Linked DNA regions of Homo sapiens: region 2 is linked to region 1. A link means that fine-mapping ties the variant in region 1 to the expression of a gene that starts in the linked region. Tissue or cell type: monocytes after LPS. Region 1 holds a variant in brackets; the other region holds the start of a gene. All regions are shown on one strand. Distances are from middle to middle.

Region 1 (8,108 bases):
TGACTTTGGAGCATAGCCTAATAAGAACCTGGCATTTGCCTCCTTTTCCAGTGTTGATGTTCTTGAGAGCATCAGCCAGGGCGTTCATGCATTCCATTATGGCAGCATGTAGAGATGGCGGAAGGAGGATGGGAAGGGAGGGCACATGGAGTTCCCCTTTTGAGGACACCCACCATACTGGATTTGGGCCCACCCAAATGACCTCATTTGACCCTAATTGCCTTTTTAAAGGCTGTATCTTCAAATAGAGTCATGTTCTGAGGTATCCTGGAGGTCAGGAATTTAACATATAAATCTGGGGTGGGGCGGGGGCACAGTTCCATCCATAACATGGGCATATATGAAGGAACTAATAAAAATTAGCTATTATTAAGTACGTGTGGTGGTCAGAGCGAATGAACATCAAGGAACCACAAAAGAAAAAACATGAACTTTGCTTTTTTCCCTCCATTTGACCAAGAATAGATGTTTAATGCTTGAACAGCTGCGGCACAACAGAAAGTCTTGTCCAAATAGCTACTGATAGCAAACCAGGCCAGAGGACACTTAAAAACTAGAGCACAATGGCTCAGCAGGTAGATGCTGTTAAGGGAACAGAATTGGCTAATGGCCTCCCCAAACCACAGGTTACTATTTTAAATGTTACAAAAGACCATAGATCATGAAAAGATAAAAAATAAACCAGTGTGGGTCCAATCTTCAAAGGAGGAGAATTGAGTGATAAAGGGGCAGTTTGTCTCCATGTGACTAAACTAAATTGCTGAGTGCTAGGGATGTTTTTAGGCTAGAGGTAGATTACAATCTTTTCTGTCCTGGGGCTCTCAGGATAGAAACCGGTGTGTGTGTGTGTGTGTGTGTGTGTGTGTGTGTTTTCTTTCCTTCACCCTTAACTTTTTGTAGTCCTTGAAGACTGAAAACACCTGTGTGCTGGCCAGTCAGGCAAAAGGGATACAGACACATTTACTTCTAGAGCTACGTAGTGTAAACATAAAAGAGGGCTTTTCTGGGGAAACACAATCAGATTTCAAGGAGCAGGGTAATCTCTGGGCCCTTATAGCACTTAGGCTGGGTATAGCTGTACTGGACTCATCAGGTTCAAGTGTTCCAGTAGAGAGTGACCCTTCCCCACAGTAATGGTCTATATTATATTTGCAGGAAAAGTAGGCAACCATGATGCTATGCAAGCCCTCAGTTGAAGAAATAGCCCTGTTGGAAATTGGAACCCCCAATGCTCAGGAGCTGTTATTAGGTTGTTCTTCCAAGGACTTCCAGGGCCTTTCAGATGTATATCTGCTCAGATAAAGAAAAGGAATAATCCCACCTCCCGAACAGCCATTGTAGGAGGGTCAGGCAATCCTCCCTACATACAAATGTCATTGAACTATTGATCAGCTGAAACTGCAACACAAAGGGTGACCACATGGGTGTGGCCACATGTGCATGTTGCCAGCTCCCTGCCAGGTATGGGAAGAAGAGGCCTGCAGGACTCTGCCCAGATTTGCATTATCGCTCAGGTGAACAATTGCCCCAGACTCTCAACTAGTCTTCCTGCCTTCATACTTCCAATTAGTGATCCAAGAACTACCCCCTACCCCCCACCCCACCCCCCACCCTTTTTTTTTCTTTGAGACGGAGTTTTGCTCTTGTTGCCCAGGCTGGAGTGCAATGGCGCGATCTCGGCTCACCGCAACCTCCGCCTCCCAGGTTCAAGCGATTCTCCTGCCTCAGCCTCCCAAGTAGCTGGGATTACAGGTGTCCACTGCCATGCCTGGCTAATTTTTTGTATATTTAGTAGAGGCGGGGGTTTCACCATGTTGGCCAGGCTGGTCTCAAACTCCTGACCTCAGGTGATCTGCCTGCTTCAGCCTCTCAAAGTGCTGGGATTACAGGCATGAGCCACCACCCCTGCCCGAGAACCACCCCTTTAAGGGATAATACAAAAATACAAGTAATTTGCTTCAGGAAGAGGAGAGCAAGCATTCATTACGCCTGCAGGTTCAAAACAGAAGAGTGATCAAGTTGAGAAATAAACAATTCTTTCCCAGGTCAATGTGTCATGGTGCGGTGGTTTGATCCAATAATTCTGGCAAAGTCCTATGCATGTTCTTGAGAGAAGGTGGGAAGATTGTCTTGATTGGAGCTGGGAAGACAGAGAGAAAATGGCCACTCACCTAGTGGGTTAAATAAGCCAAGAATCCTTTAGGACTGAAAATAGGTGATTCTCAGCTTTCTTTAATTAATGTGCAAAAGAACTTGGGTATGTACATAAGCTAAAAATTATTGACGATTTTTAATTTATGGAGAAAATAATTACTCCTAAATCCACCTCCCTAATAATGATCAAAATGTGTATGCTTTAGTCCTCATCCGTTTGCATACATATTTTGAAAAGCTGTGATCATAGCCTTTGTCTTGAATAAATGTATATTATTACATACCCAAATATTTGCTAATTTAGAAAACAATGGATTTACCAATTCCATCCATTTCACTTGAGAAATTTTCCATCTGGAGTACATCTTTCATTAGACAATAGTTCCTGCTGTTGAGGGCTGAAGTTGCAGCCTGGGTTATACCTCACACTTTTATACAAAAGGAAAGGTGTAGAATATGGTAAGGAGTGGTAGATTTTAAATGATGGACGCTAGATACAGGAGAAATGCCTGGACTCAAGAAAACAAAAAAAAAAAGAACATCTTACTTTCATGGCACATCCTGGCTTATATTAAAATCACCCTTAAAATGGGGCTAATAATGCCTACTTTAAAGGGCTTTTTGAGGAATAAATGATGGGAAATTGCACTGTAAACTGCAAGAAAAACAAAAAAAAAACAAAAACAAACAAAAAACATGATACATATGTAAGGTAGAACTGTTAGTATCACTCATGAGTCTGTTTCTCTTGCTAAACTCCAAATTCCTGAAAAACCATTCCCTTACTTTTCATCTTTGTACCATCCCCACTCTCCCCGACTTCCCACCTCCTACCGCACCTCCTGCAGAGTAAGACAGAGGCAGAAACAGCTCTTTTGGAGCTGAGAGAAACAACCAACCAATTTTTTCTAGGACTGTCAGGGATATTTCACCCAGAGTTTTACATGGCTAATGCGATCTAGGAGCTATTTTCAATATTTTATAAAAGTCTAACCTGAAATTATGCTGTTGTCATCAGTAAAGCTTTACAAACCAAATAAAACATCAAAGTTTTCTTTTTCCCCCCTTTTTCTTGTTTTTTCCTTCCTTTCGAATGGGGTTATATAAAGCAACTATGCATTTTATTGAAAAATCAATTATTACTTTAATAAATATTGTGAGATGCCCTGTCATAGTTTCAGAGGACAAAGAATGAATAAGATAAATCATAATCCTTGCTTTTAAGGAACTCATAGTGCAGTGAAAACAGACAAGTTTAATGTACACGTATAATATTGTATGACAAGGACAATAATAAGAACAATTACAATAAAGGAAATATATATGAGAGTCTTAACGCAGACTTTAGTGGGGTTAGGTGATCATGAAAGGCTTCCTGGAGGGAGTGAAACTTTAAAAGACCCCTGGGAGTTATCTAGGCAAAGGCTGTGTGTGAAGGACAAAGTGGGAGGCCAGACAATATGTTCCCTGCAGAGGGAGAAATATATGCAAATATCTAGAAGTGAAAGAAAACATGTTACCAAGAAACTGTGGTTCCATAGGACCCCAGTATAGAACTGGAGTACAGGAATGGGTAGAGAGAGGGTGTGGGGAAGTATGGCATTTTCCCCTTTTTTTTTTTTGAGACAGAGTCTCGCTCTGTCGCCCAGGCTGGAGTGCAGTGGTGCGATCTCAGCTCACTGCAACCTCCACCTCCCAGGTTCAAGCGATTCTCTCACCTCAGCCTCCTGAGTAGCTGGGATTACAGGCACCAGCTACCACGCTCACTTAATTTTTGTATTTTTAGTAGAGATGGAATTTCGCCATGTTGGCCAGGCTGGTCTCAAACTCCTGACCTTGTGATCCACCTGCCTCAGCCTCCCAAAGTGCTGGGATTACAGGCATGAGCCACCGTGCCCAGCCTTTCCCCAACTATCATTTGGAAAAATTTCACACCTAGAAAACATTTGAAAAAATAAATGCAAAGAACATTTATGTTTGCTTCACCTAGATAATACACACACGTACACACACATATGTACACACACA[C/TACGTACAC]ACACACACACACACACACACACAGAGAGAAATGAATTGGCAAAAAGGTTAACATCTGGTGATTAGTTGGTGGTAGAGATTTCTTTTTTTCTTTTTTCTTTTTCTTTTTTCTTTCTTTCTTTCTTTTTTTTTTTTTTTTGAGAAGGAGTTTCACTCTTGTTGCCCAGGCTGGAGTGCAATGGCACGAACTTGGCTCACTGCAAACTCCACCTCCTGGGTTCAAGCGATTCTCTTGCCTCAGTCACCCGAGTAGCTGGGATTACAGGTGCATGCCACCACACCTGGCTGATTTTTGTGTTATCAGTAGAGACAGGGTTTCACCATGTTGTCCAGGCTGGTCTCATACTCCTGACCTCAGGTGACCCACCCACCTCAGCCTCCCAAAATGGTGGGATTACAGGCAAGAGCCACCGCACCCGGCCAGTGGTAGAGATTTCTAACACTCCTCAGATACTTCCTTCCCACTAATCTGCAAATGTAAATCTTTCTATACTTTCATCTATTTTATACATTTTTCCCTCCTTAGGAAACTTTGGAGATTGATAGTTCATTAAAAAGTTCCATTGTTATGTGCACACACTCTAAGAATATCTAGTGTAGATAAACCAGTGTTAGTCAGCCTTTCATGACCAACCCCCTAAGGAACAATTTTAGACTCTTTTTTTTCCTAATCACCCCTCAGGAAACTTTAATCTATCTATCTATCATCTATCTATCTAGCTGTCTGTCTGTCTATCTATCTACCTATCTATCTATCTATCTATCTATCTATCTCTGGTTTTGTACTACATATATATCTGTGCTTTGTACACTAAAAGAGAAAGAGCTGGGGATAGTGGTGTGCACCTGTAGTCCCAGCTACTTGGGAGGCTGAGGCAGGAGAATTGCTTGAGCCCAGGAGTTCAAGGCTGCAGTGAGCTATAATTGTGCCACTGCACTCCAGCCTGAGTGACACAGTAACCTCCCATCTAAAATAAAAAATGTTTTTTAAAAGTAGGATTTTTTTTAACAATCCAAGAACCAAGTTCTGTCCATTTAGGGGCAATATTGCTCCCACTTAGAATGTCTGAGATAAACAGATCTAACATAAAGAAGGAATAAATCAGAATATAATAGAATGAACTCCTATTACAATTAGTTTTTAGAAAGAATATTAATATAGTAATAACATATACACGTAAGATAAGTTGTAAATTTTCTAATGGAAAACTGCTTGATTTTGCTGTGAACCTAAAACTGCTCTAAAAATAGTCTATACCTTAAAAGCTATAAAAATAAAAATATATCATATATATTATCATTTCAACATGCAATTCATATAAAACATTATTAACGAGATATTTTACATTCTTTTTTTCCATAATGAATCTTCCAAAACCAGTGTGCATTTTCCACTTACAGCATTGTCTTAATTTGGACCAAACACATTTGAAGTCCTCATATTGGACAACACAGGTCTAGAGCAATGGCAGTACCAAAGGTGGCTTGGAGGGACTTTACCCACCTAGACTCTTCCTACCTCACAATCTCTATCAGCATTGCTCCAGGCCACACTAGATGCATATATCAAAAAGTGCTTTACTCTGCAAATGCAGCTTCCAAACAAGTCTCTGAGCCTTTTTTCCACCCAGAGTGTTGCTTCTCAGCTCCTCAAACACAGAGATTCACCCGGCCCTCCCCAGTCCAGTGCTCCAGACAGTACTGTTCCAAAGATTTTCTTGACGGGATTCTGCCTAAAAGAGGGGCACGGAACACTGAAGAATAGAAGGGCTTTTATTACTTCAGAATTTCCTGAAGACATCATATACTCCTCATTAATAATAGGAGAAGGAGCTTTCAGGTCCTGAACACTGTGCAAAAAAGTGAAAAATTTACTAAAATGCAGTGCAGATTTAAATGCCATCTAGAAAATAGGTACTTAAGAAAAAAATAGTTGCTGTCAATATAGAAATAAATACCTAGGCTTTGCCCTAGTTGGTGGGGATTATTTATATTTCCTTGCATCTAGGAACATTTTTTTTTTTAATATTTCCTAGCAACATTCCTGGAACTAATGTATAGACCTCTCTGTATGCCATGATATATTATAACCTACTCATCCTCTAAATATTATTATCACGACATGGGCACACTTTAGCTCAGAAAAGTTAGTTGTCATTTGAATTAGAAAAGGCACTACATTAAATCATAGTCTGCCCTTATATATTCATCATTTTCAGGTTTTATCACTCAGAGAAGTGAGGAAAAAATGGCATTTATTTGCTTACCATTTTCAACAGCTCTTCCAAAAGAAGGGAAAGAAAGATAAAAAGTGGACGGACTATAAAATAAAAACAGACACAGTCTCACAGAATTCTGCAGAGAAAACTGCATGGCATGAGGTGGAATGCACGTTTAAGTTTAATTTATAGTCACAAAATTATTATTGCCTAACTCCCCCGTGAGTCCTTTGGAACAAAGGAGGAAACATTAAATATTTAAAAATTAGGGCTGGGCATGGTGGCTCAGGCCTGTAATCCCAGCACTTTGGGAGGTTGAGGCAGGTGGATCACCTGAGGTCAGGAATTCGAGAGCAGCCTGACCAACATGGCAAAACCCTGTCTCTACTAAAAACGCAAAAATTAGCCAGGTGTGGTGGTGTGCGCCTGTAGTTCCAGCTACTTGGGAGGCTGAGACAAGAGAATTGCTTGAACTCGGCAGAGGTTGCAGTGAGCCAAGATTGCGCCACTGCACTCCAGCCTGGGCAACAGTGCGAGACTCCATCTCTAAATAAATACATAAATAAATTTAAATAACATTGGTAAAATGTTATATGGCATATATAATCTTATGTGGCATTTTTTAAATTAAGAGGTCTTCATGGAAAATTCAAAATATTTTCCATCTTTACATCAAAACCTTTATAAATTAAGTATCTAATATTTTAATATAATTTAATAATATGACATGATATCTGGTATTTCCTTTGAAAACCTCCAGCAGAGAAAACAACATAAAAGTTGGGGAAGTATATTAAACAAGAGTGACAGAATGCTGTAACTGGTGATGTTGAGTGAGGGGTACTTAGGGGTTATTTATACTTTTCCCTATGCTTGTATATATCATATATCTGAAGTTTCCCAAATAAAAAAGTTTAAAAATTATTGATGATAAATTTTAAAATATGTGGGTATTTTTAATTAAAAAAATTATTAACTGGTTGTCTCTGACTCGAGGCCTGGCACGGGAGATTTACTATTTACTTATATTCTTGTAAATTGTTTGCATGTTTTTATCAGATACATTATTTACTCAAGAAAAAGTATATGTATATATGTATGTATACACACACATACCATACACACACACACACACACACACACACCAGTATTTTGGTACTGTACTTACTGCCTGAGGATACGGGTTATGCATTTAACTTCTCAGTTGCTTGCCCTTAGGTAAGTTGGGTAAGTTACTTCTGAGCATTCTTATGGAAGAATAACATTTAAATGAGGTAATGCATTTGAAAATATCCAGCACAGTGTCTGGCATAATACTGGCGTTCACTTAGTGCTGGTTTAAATTATATTAAATATGTGGAGAAACTAGATTTAATATAGGAGGCAGGCCTACCCCTAATATTTGAGTGGCCATGAGCAAGAGGACAAACAGGGGCATCCAGCCCATGGCCTGTTCTCATCTTTCTCCATCCTACCAGAGGCCCTTGCATATGTGTGTGGACACTCCAACAGGCTTGATCAAGTTCCACCATCCCCAAAAGCTGTCCTTTCACCACTCCTGAGGCCTAAGTGTGTGCACACTTACCCTGCAGTCTACAACTGCATGGGCCTGGGAGTGGGCTTCTGGCTATTTGTCAAAGAATTTTGGGCTTGTAGGTGGCTGGAACCTAGTCTGAAGGAGGTGAGGGTGGGGTGGTGAGGGGAGAG
Region 2 (8,108 bases), 130 kb after region 1:
AACAGAAGGAAGAGGACTAAGGAGAGATTACTAGGGAATTTCTCTCTTTAGGGGATGGGATAAGGAACAAAACTTACAGAGGGAAGAGTTAGATGGAGGGCAACTAGGACACAGCGGCTGGAAATCAAGGGAAGAACATTCTAAGAGGAAAGGGCTTGTCAGCACTGCCAAAGGCTGCCAAGAGGTTGGGGACTCTGAAGGCAGAGGAGACTCCTGTTAGCTCGATGAGGAGGATGTCCATGAAGATCTTTGTAAAAGGGATTTCAATAGAGTGGAAGCAGCAGTTTTCAGGGTAAGAAGTGACTGCAGGAAGTGGAACCTACTTCCAGGAGTTTCATGGAGAAGGAAAAATGAAGATTAGGATGGCAGCTAGAAAGAGTAGCTAGGTGAGGAGCGGTAGGAAGGGGTGGGATGGAGAATGGGTGAAGCCAGCAAGGAGGATGAATGAAGTAATGTCCTAGTAGAGGGATGACAGGGAGGGTGCTGTGTTATAGTCTCAACGTCTGTGTCTTCCTAAAACTCACACGCAGAAACCTAATTTCCAAGGTGATGGTATTAGGAGATGGGGCATTTAGGAAGCAATTAGGTCATGAGGGCTGTGCTCTCATGAATGGGATTAATGCCCTTGTAAAAGAGTCCAGGAAGCTCGCTAGCCCCTTCTGCCACGTGAGGACACAGTTAGAAGGTGCTATGAGGAACAGGCCCTCACTGACACCAAACTGCCAGTGCCTTGATCTTAGACTTCCCAGCCTCCAAAACTAAATTTCTGTTGTTTATAAGCCCCCCTCCCCCACCCGCCCCAGTTTATGGTACTTTTGCTACAACACGCCAAACAGTCTAAGACATACTACTTTCTGAGAAAAGTGAAAGAAATAGTGTGGAGATTTCAAAGGTATTTTTCAGGTAGAAGGCATGACTGGCAGAGATCAACTCAAATGGCTATGCACTGGGGCCATAAGCTTAAGCATCTTACTATAAATATATTCTCTCTGGGTTTTTTCAAGTACATATCATCCACCCTCCGAAAAACACCTGTGAGGACTGCCCTCTTGCTCTCTCTTTTAATGGGTAGAGGGTTAGCTACTTTTGAATAGTAGCTCATATTCTTGTTGGCTGATGAGTACAAAGCTTGGCACTGACATACTAACATTAGAATCATGCTTTCAAAACACCAAAAATTCCTCGATGGTATTGACTTTCTTTAAAAATATCACTGGAATTGTCAAATTTACCACTGCAGTATTATTTGAATGAAAACGATTAGGTTGAACTGTATAAAATGGTCCATACTTGAGCACTTTTTATACCAAAAAAACAGCAGTTTCAAATAATGCTACCTTATACAAAACCTACCTCAGGAATAGCCAACATAACAAGCAGCTTCTTTCTCTTTTCACATTCAAAAACCCTATATGCTTGGAGGCTGAGATAGCTTCCATCCATACTAAGTGGAATCTTTTTTATTTTTCATGAATGCAAACTCAGTAAGACAGACAATAGCCCTTCCCCCAAACCCTGCCATATTAATGGCCATTATTTGTAGGGCAGCTAGTTTGGGTGGGGGAAATAGATCAAGCAGACAAAGCTAACTGCTAAATCCGAGAACTCATTTACCCATGACATTAATCTCATATGGCACCATTTTCTATCAGGATTGTTCAGTCCTTATATTTACTAAAAAAAAATTGGGACAAAGTGTAAATTTGCTAACCAATGTAATTGATCAATAGATCGTTATTTAAATAATTTATTTCAATTCCCCTCTATATTTGTAAGGACAAACAGCAGACTTCTAAAGCTTTTTCCAGTAACTTCCTGATTTATGTATTCTTCACATAAAAACTGTGCTTCTACACAAAATTAGTGCTTCAGATGAGTCAGAATTTAGAAGAAGTAAATGTATAACCCAGTTTAGGTAATTGTTTAAATGGGTTAAGGAAAAGCTTCCAGCTTCCCCTTTTTGAGCCTTGATTACTACTTTCCTTCCCCCAGGGCTTCTAGCCTGCTTACCAAAAAAAGAGACAGAATTTGCAATTCTATGAATTATTGCACAATGTAAACCCAGTTTCCTCCTATATACATAGCAAACATAGAATTCAAATACACAAAGCACATACACTTGAGAATCACACTCAGACAACTTAACCAAACAACAAAAACACACCAGCCCCCAAAGGATCCCACCAGTGCACCTATCCATCAACACCCGCCAAGCCAGTCTGGCAGGCATCCGTCACCCAGCAAGTGGTCCCAGTAACTTCCCCTGCAGGCCCTAGGTCTGACTCTTAACCTCACACTATCATATGTACCTAGAGACATGAGCACAATTCAACTCAATCAATGTTTATTAAGCAACCTCTTTGTGCTGAATGCTGTATTCTTTTCTTTTAATTCTTCAGCCATAGTCCTGGTCACACCAAATGCAGCTTGGTTTAGTTCCCCAATCATCCCAGCCATTCGGGTCCCTGCACTGGCTCCATCCAGTCTCTCTAAAGCAAGAGTTTTGTTTGTTTGTTTGTTTTTTTAGATGGAATCTCACTCTGTCACCCAGGCTGGAGTGCAGTGGCTCAATCTTGGCTCACTGCAACCTCCACCTCCCAGGTTCAAGCGATTCTCCCACCTCAGCCTCCCAAGTAGCTAGGGCCACAGGTATGTGCCACCATGCCCAGCTATAAAGCAAGAGTTCTTAACTGGGTCCACATGTAGGATTAAAGGGTCCATAAACTAGGGTGAAAAATAATCTTACATCTTTATTTTCATTTTTGCCTCTAATGGAAATTTAGTATTTTCTTCAGTTATGTATGTAGACAACCACAGATATCTTCATATCACATTACAACTACTTAAGATATATTGAAATGTTATTTATACTCATCATTACTTTGAAGTTTGGTGGTTAAAAGACCTACCTGTAGATTTTGTTATGTAATGCATAAATAAGAAGCAAATAAATTACTGCATTATAATTTATTTAAAATATTTTGATACCTGTATTTCAATGTGACTGATTTCCTCTGTAATTCTATGCATTTTATTTTATGCATTTTAAACATTATTCTGAGATGGAGTCTATTCTCTTTACCAGATGTTAATGAAAACTGTAGCATAAAAAGTACCTGCTATCTGGTTTGAAACTATTCCATTACCTGCTCAACTCATCTGACTCTCCCTTCTACCTCCAAATTTTCTCTTCTTCCATCCTATTCAAACATAGATAAATGCCCCTAGATCAGGCAAGCCCCTCTGCATGGCCCTCAGTAGAGCCAAGTGAATCTTCCTGTTCATTTCTCAGTCTCTCAGTAGTCAATTTCCACTTCCACTCGCAGGTGAAATCTAGAACCTTCTTTTAGCATAGTCTAAAACTACTAAGTACTTTCATAACCTTTCTTTCCATCCAGTCATATCTGCAAGGCATAGTTATCCCATCAAGCCTTAATATCAGGCAAACCTTAAGGTCTCCTCTCAGTTTGGGACACAAAGCTTTTTTACTGTCTCTTGGGATGATCGGCCCAGGAAGATGAGTAAAGCCAGGGCCAAGCAAAACTGACAGATCTGGCAACACACACAAATGTTAAAACCAATGGAATCTTGTGCATGGGACTCAACCAAGCATTGTGACTCCCTGGAACTCAAGGATGTCTAGGTAAGCCAAGAACTGTCATTAGTAAGTCAAAAATTATTGCTAACATCAGAAATATATGGCATAGTTGTTCCTGTAGAGACCAAATTGTCCTGTTCCATCACTCAGCACCCTGAGTTGATGAACTCCTGTGACAAGAGAAACATAAAGGATTATGAAACTTACTCAGAAGGAGAAAGAAAGATGCCACATATGAGATGCCTGCCATTTGGGCCAGCACAGTCCTTTTTCGTCCCAATAGTGTCACTAACATTCAGAGGTTGAGTGACAAATGCTGTGCTCTCACTGCAAAGTAAAGAGGAAGCAAAAGTGTGGTTTTCAGCCCACTGAGAAATAGAGATGTCTTGTGAAAAGCAAAACTGGTTACATTATGTAGCTCTTTACTAATCACTCAAATTTGGGAGTAAAAAAGTTATCTTTGTGGTTAAGTAAACAGATATCGATAAAACTAAGAAAAGATGGGTCTCAACCTGGCTCACAGTATGTGTCATTTGGTAATGATGAGAGAATTTAGGTAAACTGAATAAATAAAAAAGGCACCAGCAATGTTGTCTTCTTGGCCCTTCCTTCTCCTCCTCTCTTGAGAGAGGAAATGACTGAGAAATGGGAGAAGGCCCCTGAAAAACATGAACTTGGGGCGACATGAGGTGGTGCTGAAGGTTACAGGCTCTAGAGTCAGGCTGCCTGGGTTTGCATGCAGATTCTAGTTTTAGTAACTGTGCAATCTTAGAAAACTTAATTAACTTTTCCTAACCCTCATTGCTAAAATGAGGATACTAATAGTAGGTACCCTGTAAGATTACTGTGAATGCCAAATGAGCTAATTTTTTAATTATTTTTTTATTTCTTTTTTTTTGTATTTTACTTTTTTTTATTATTATTATACTTTAAGTTCTAGGGTACATGTGCACAACGTGCAAATTTGTTACATATGTATACATGTGCCATGTTGGTGTGCTGCACCCATTAACTCGTCATTTACATTAGGTATATCTCCTAATGCTTTCCCTCCCCCTTCCCCCGACCCTATGACAGGCCCCGGTGTGTGATGTTCCCCTTCCTGTGTCCAAGTGTTCTCACTGTTCAATTCCCACCTATGAGTGAGAACATGCAGTGTTTGGTTTTTTGTTCTTGAGATAGTTTGCTGAGAATGATAGTTTCAAGCTAATTTATTTAAAGCACTTAGAACAATATCTGGTACATAGTAACTGCTCAATGAATATTAGCTACCATCATCACCATCATGAGACATTTAAGTAAATCTTCATCTGCCCTGTGAAACTGCCTTTGCAAAAATTGTAACAGTGAGAAAGTTATGACAGTGAAAGGGATCTGACCTCACCATCTCCATCTTGCTTCTAACTTCCAAGCTGCCCTTGTTAATTCCTGGTTGTAGGCCAAACTAACTTTGGGAGGAATTTAGCTTAGTTTAATTTTGAAACAAAGAGGATAACAGCCCTTTCTGGAAACAAACCCCCTTCTTGCCTGGGGAGCAGACTTCCCTAGTAAGACTAACAAATTAGCCACAACATTAGAAATTATGGTTTAGGAGTCATGCAGCCAGAGGCCACACAATTCCAACCTCCCCAACTGTTCCTAGGGATAACATCACTATTGTAAAACCTAAATTGGTGCTCAAGGTATTTTTCAGACCCTGCATCCTGATGCACCAGCTGACACCATCCAGGCTGGTGATCTGGTTCCACCAGTTCTTTGATCCCACTTAGGAACGGAAGACTGCAAGAACCCCCTTTGATCCCCTGTGATTTCATCTCCTACCTGACCAATCAGCACTCCCCACTCCCTGGCCTGCCAAATTATCCTTACTAACTCCAGTCTCTGAATTTCCGGGGAGACTGATTTGAGTAATAAAACTCTGGTTTCCCATTTAGCTGGTTCTGTGTGAATTAAACTCTTTCTCTATTGCAATTCTCCTGTCTTGATAAGTCTGTTCTATCTGGGCAGCAGGCAAGGAGAAACCTGTTGGGCAGTTACGCTAATGGGCAGTTACACCGATGTGAACCCAGGTATCAAGGATGGCAGAGGAGTATCTAAATGCAACAGTTGGCCCTGAACCTAGACTAATACTACGCTAGTGCTAGAGTTCTCAGGAAGCTTCCACTTAAATCAGATAATCACAATGCAATGTGTCAACAATCAGTGGGGCACCTATAGGGGGTGGGGAAAATTGGTAGGCAGGAGGGAAGGTCAAGATGGATTGGGCTGGGCCAGGTGAGTCAATGAGTCATCTAGAGAGGCAGGGGGCCAAGGTACAGTTGGGGAAAAACCGTGTGGCATGAATAGTAACACACAGGCTGTACTATCTTGTTGGAATGAAGTTTGAGGTTGTTGTGAAAGAAGGATCTATACAGGTAGGATGGGCAGATCTTAGTGGGCTTCGTGTGCCAAGCCTAAGAGCTTGGCTTTTATTAATACCTCAAAGAAGAGGGAAGCTATGAAGATTTTTAGTGGTAGTATAGCCTGGTTGGATTTTCCGTTTTTCCTTTTAAGTTGAATTCTGTATGTGTGCATTGCTAACAGGTTGAAAGGTGAAGAAGGGAGACAAGGCTAGAAGCAAGAAGGTCAGTTACAAGGTTTTTGTAGTTGTCTCTATGAGCAATAATAAGGGCCTGAAGTAGGGCATTTAAAATAAAGACAGAGGCCGGGCGCAGTGGCTCATGCCTGTAATCCCAGCACTTTAGGTGGCAGAAGCGGGCGGATCACGAGGTCAGGAGATCGAGACCATCCTGGCTAACATGGTGAAGCCCCGTCTCTACTAAAAATACAAAAAAATAGCTGGGTGTGGTGGTGGGCGCCTGTAGTCCCAGCTACTGGGGAGGCTGAGGCAAGAGAATGGCATGAAGCCAGGAGGCGGAGCTTGCAGTGAGCCAAGATCACGCCACTGCACTCCAGCCTGGGCGACAGGGCGAGACTCCATCTCAAAATAAATAAATAAATAAAGACAGAGGTGGGATAGATAAAATAATCAAATAGTTACGGAATACTCCCTGTGCAGTAAGCACCCTACCATGTGCTGGACATCCATTAAGGACATAATTAAGCTGCAGCCTTTGATCTGAAGGAGCTGCTGCTTGTGCCATGTGGCATGGTGGAGGTGAGCAGGTAAGAACTTGACTGTCACATAGGGATATCAGAGAAGGAAGAGGGCATGTCTAATCTGGAGAGAATGAATGGGAGGTCAGTAAAATCTTCAGGGGAAAGGTGGCATTTTAAAGTAAAATTTATTTTCCTAGTGAGAATTATAGTAGAATGGGGTACATTCTACAAATTCAGGTCTGGAGGCATCTAACTTTATCTATCTATCTATCCATCCATACATCCATCCATCCCTCCATTCACTCATCCATTCTTCTGGTTTTATTCATTAGCAATGATACCTATTAGCCCTCCAGTGATGGTCAAACTACAAATATTGAAGTCTTAAGTGAAAGGCCCTGTACTTCCCTTTTCAAGATACTATGCAAGGCTTGGGGGATAAAAGAGGTGTAAGAGGGCCCTGCCCTCCAGGAACTTGGGGTCTAGTTTAATAAACAGCTGAGATAAAAAAAAAAAAAAAAACAGCAGCCATATACGGCAAACATGGGTCTGGTATCCGATCTATAGCTCAGGCAAGAAATAACCTGAATTAATAGGCTGAAAAGGCAGGGAACAGTCGCAGTAAGTCATTCAGAAGAGCCTGGTTTTAAAATTGGTCCTTGGACATCTAGTATGATGCAAATGGGCAGGAAGGAGAAGGACATTTCAGTGTGGACAAATACAATGTACAGAGGCAGAGGCAGAGTCAGGGATGTGCAGATTGTATTTTGGGAACAATTAAAGGGCAGTCTGCCTAGGATGGAGATTTCGAACAAACTCTCCAGGCTACTAACTATAAAATCAGTGAGGCTCAAGTTACAGGAATTTATTCACCATTTTAGTTGCAGAAGTTGGGGGTCACCCCCAGGCACCAACACTTTAAGCAAATGTGGTGAATGGAGTAGTTACTGCTGTGTAACAATCAGAAAACTTTGGTGGCTTGCAACAGCAAACATTTATTTCTGTTGACAAGCCTATGGGTCAGCTGGGTGGCTCTGTTAATGGGGCTGTGTCCTGCTGACAGGAGCTGGATGGTCTAGGATGGCCTTGGCTGGGATGACTCAGTTCTCTTCCACATGTCTCTCACATCTCTCTGGCAGGCTGGACTGGCACATTTTCATGGTAATGTCAGGGGTCCAAAAGAACTAGTGGAAACACAACAGCATTTTTTAAAGCTTCTACTTACATCATGACCACTACCATCCCATGGGCCAAAGCAAGCCACATGAAAGTCCAAAGGCAAGAGATGGGTTAATATATACTCTGCCTCTTTATGGAGGGGAACTACAAAGTGATAGAGCAAAGGGAGAGATTAACACAAACAAACTGAGGCCATCAATGCAATCAATCTGCCATGTGCACTGAAAAGAGA

The links. PIP is the estimated chance that this variant, and not a neighbour inherited with it, causes the effect.
Region 2: CD101 starts here. The variant in region 1 is fine-mapped to the expression of CD101 in monocytes after LPS (Quach 2016, PIP 0.95).

The regions. Positions count from the first base shown.
Region 1 is chr1:117,130,209-117,138,316 of GRCh38, reverse strand. The region is part of intron 1 of LOC124904387 (a long non-coding RNA gene); the gene reads right to left. It also overlaps the pseudogene RPS15AP9. Among named protein-coding and RNA genes, the nearest start is that of TRIM45, 13 kb to the right of the region's middle. The variant C/TACGTACAC (reference allele first, on the strand shown) is at 4,183.
Region 2 is chr1:116,997,558-117,005,665 of GRCh38, reverse strand. CD101 (CD101 molecule) reads right to left here and starts at 3,906. Exons shown (of 10, transcript NM_001256106.3): 1 at 3,806-3,906. The coding sequence starts at 3,848.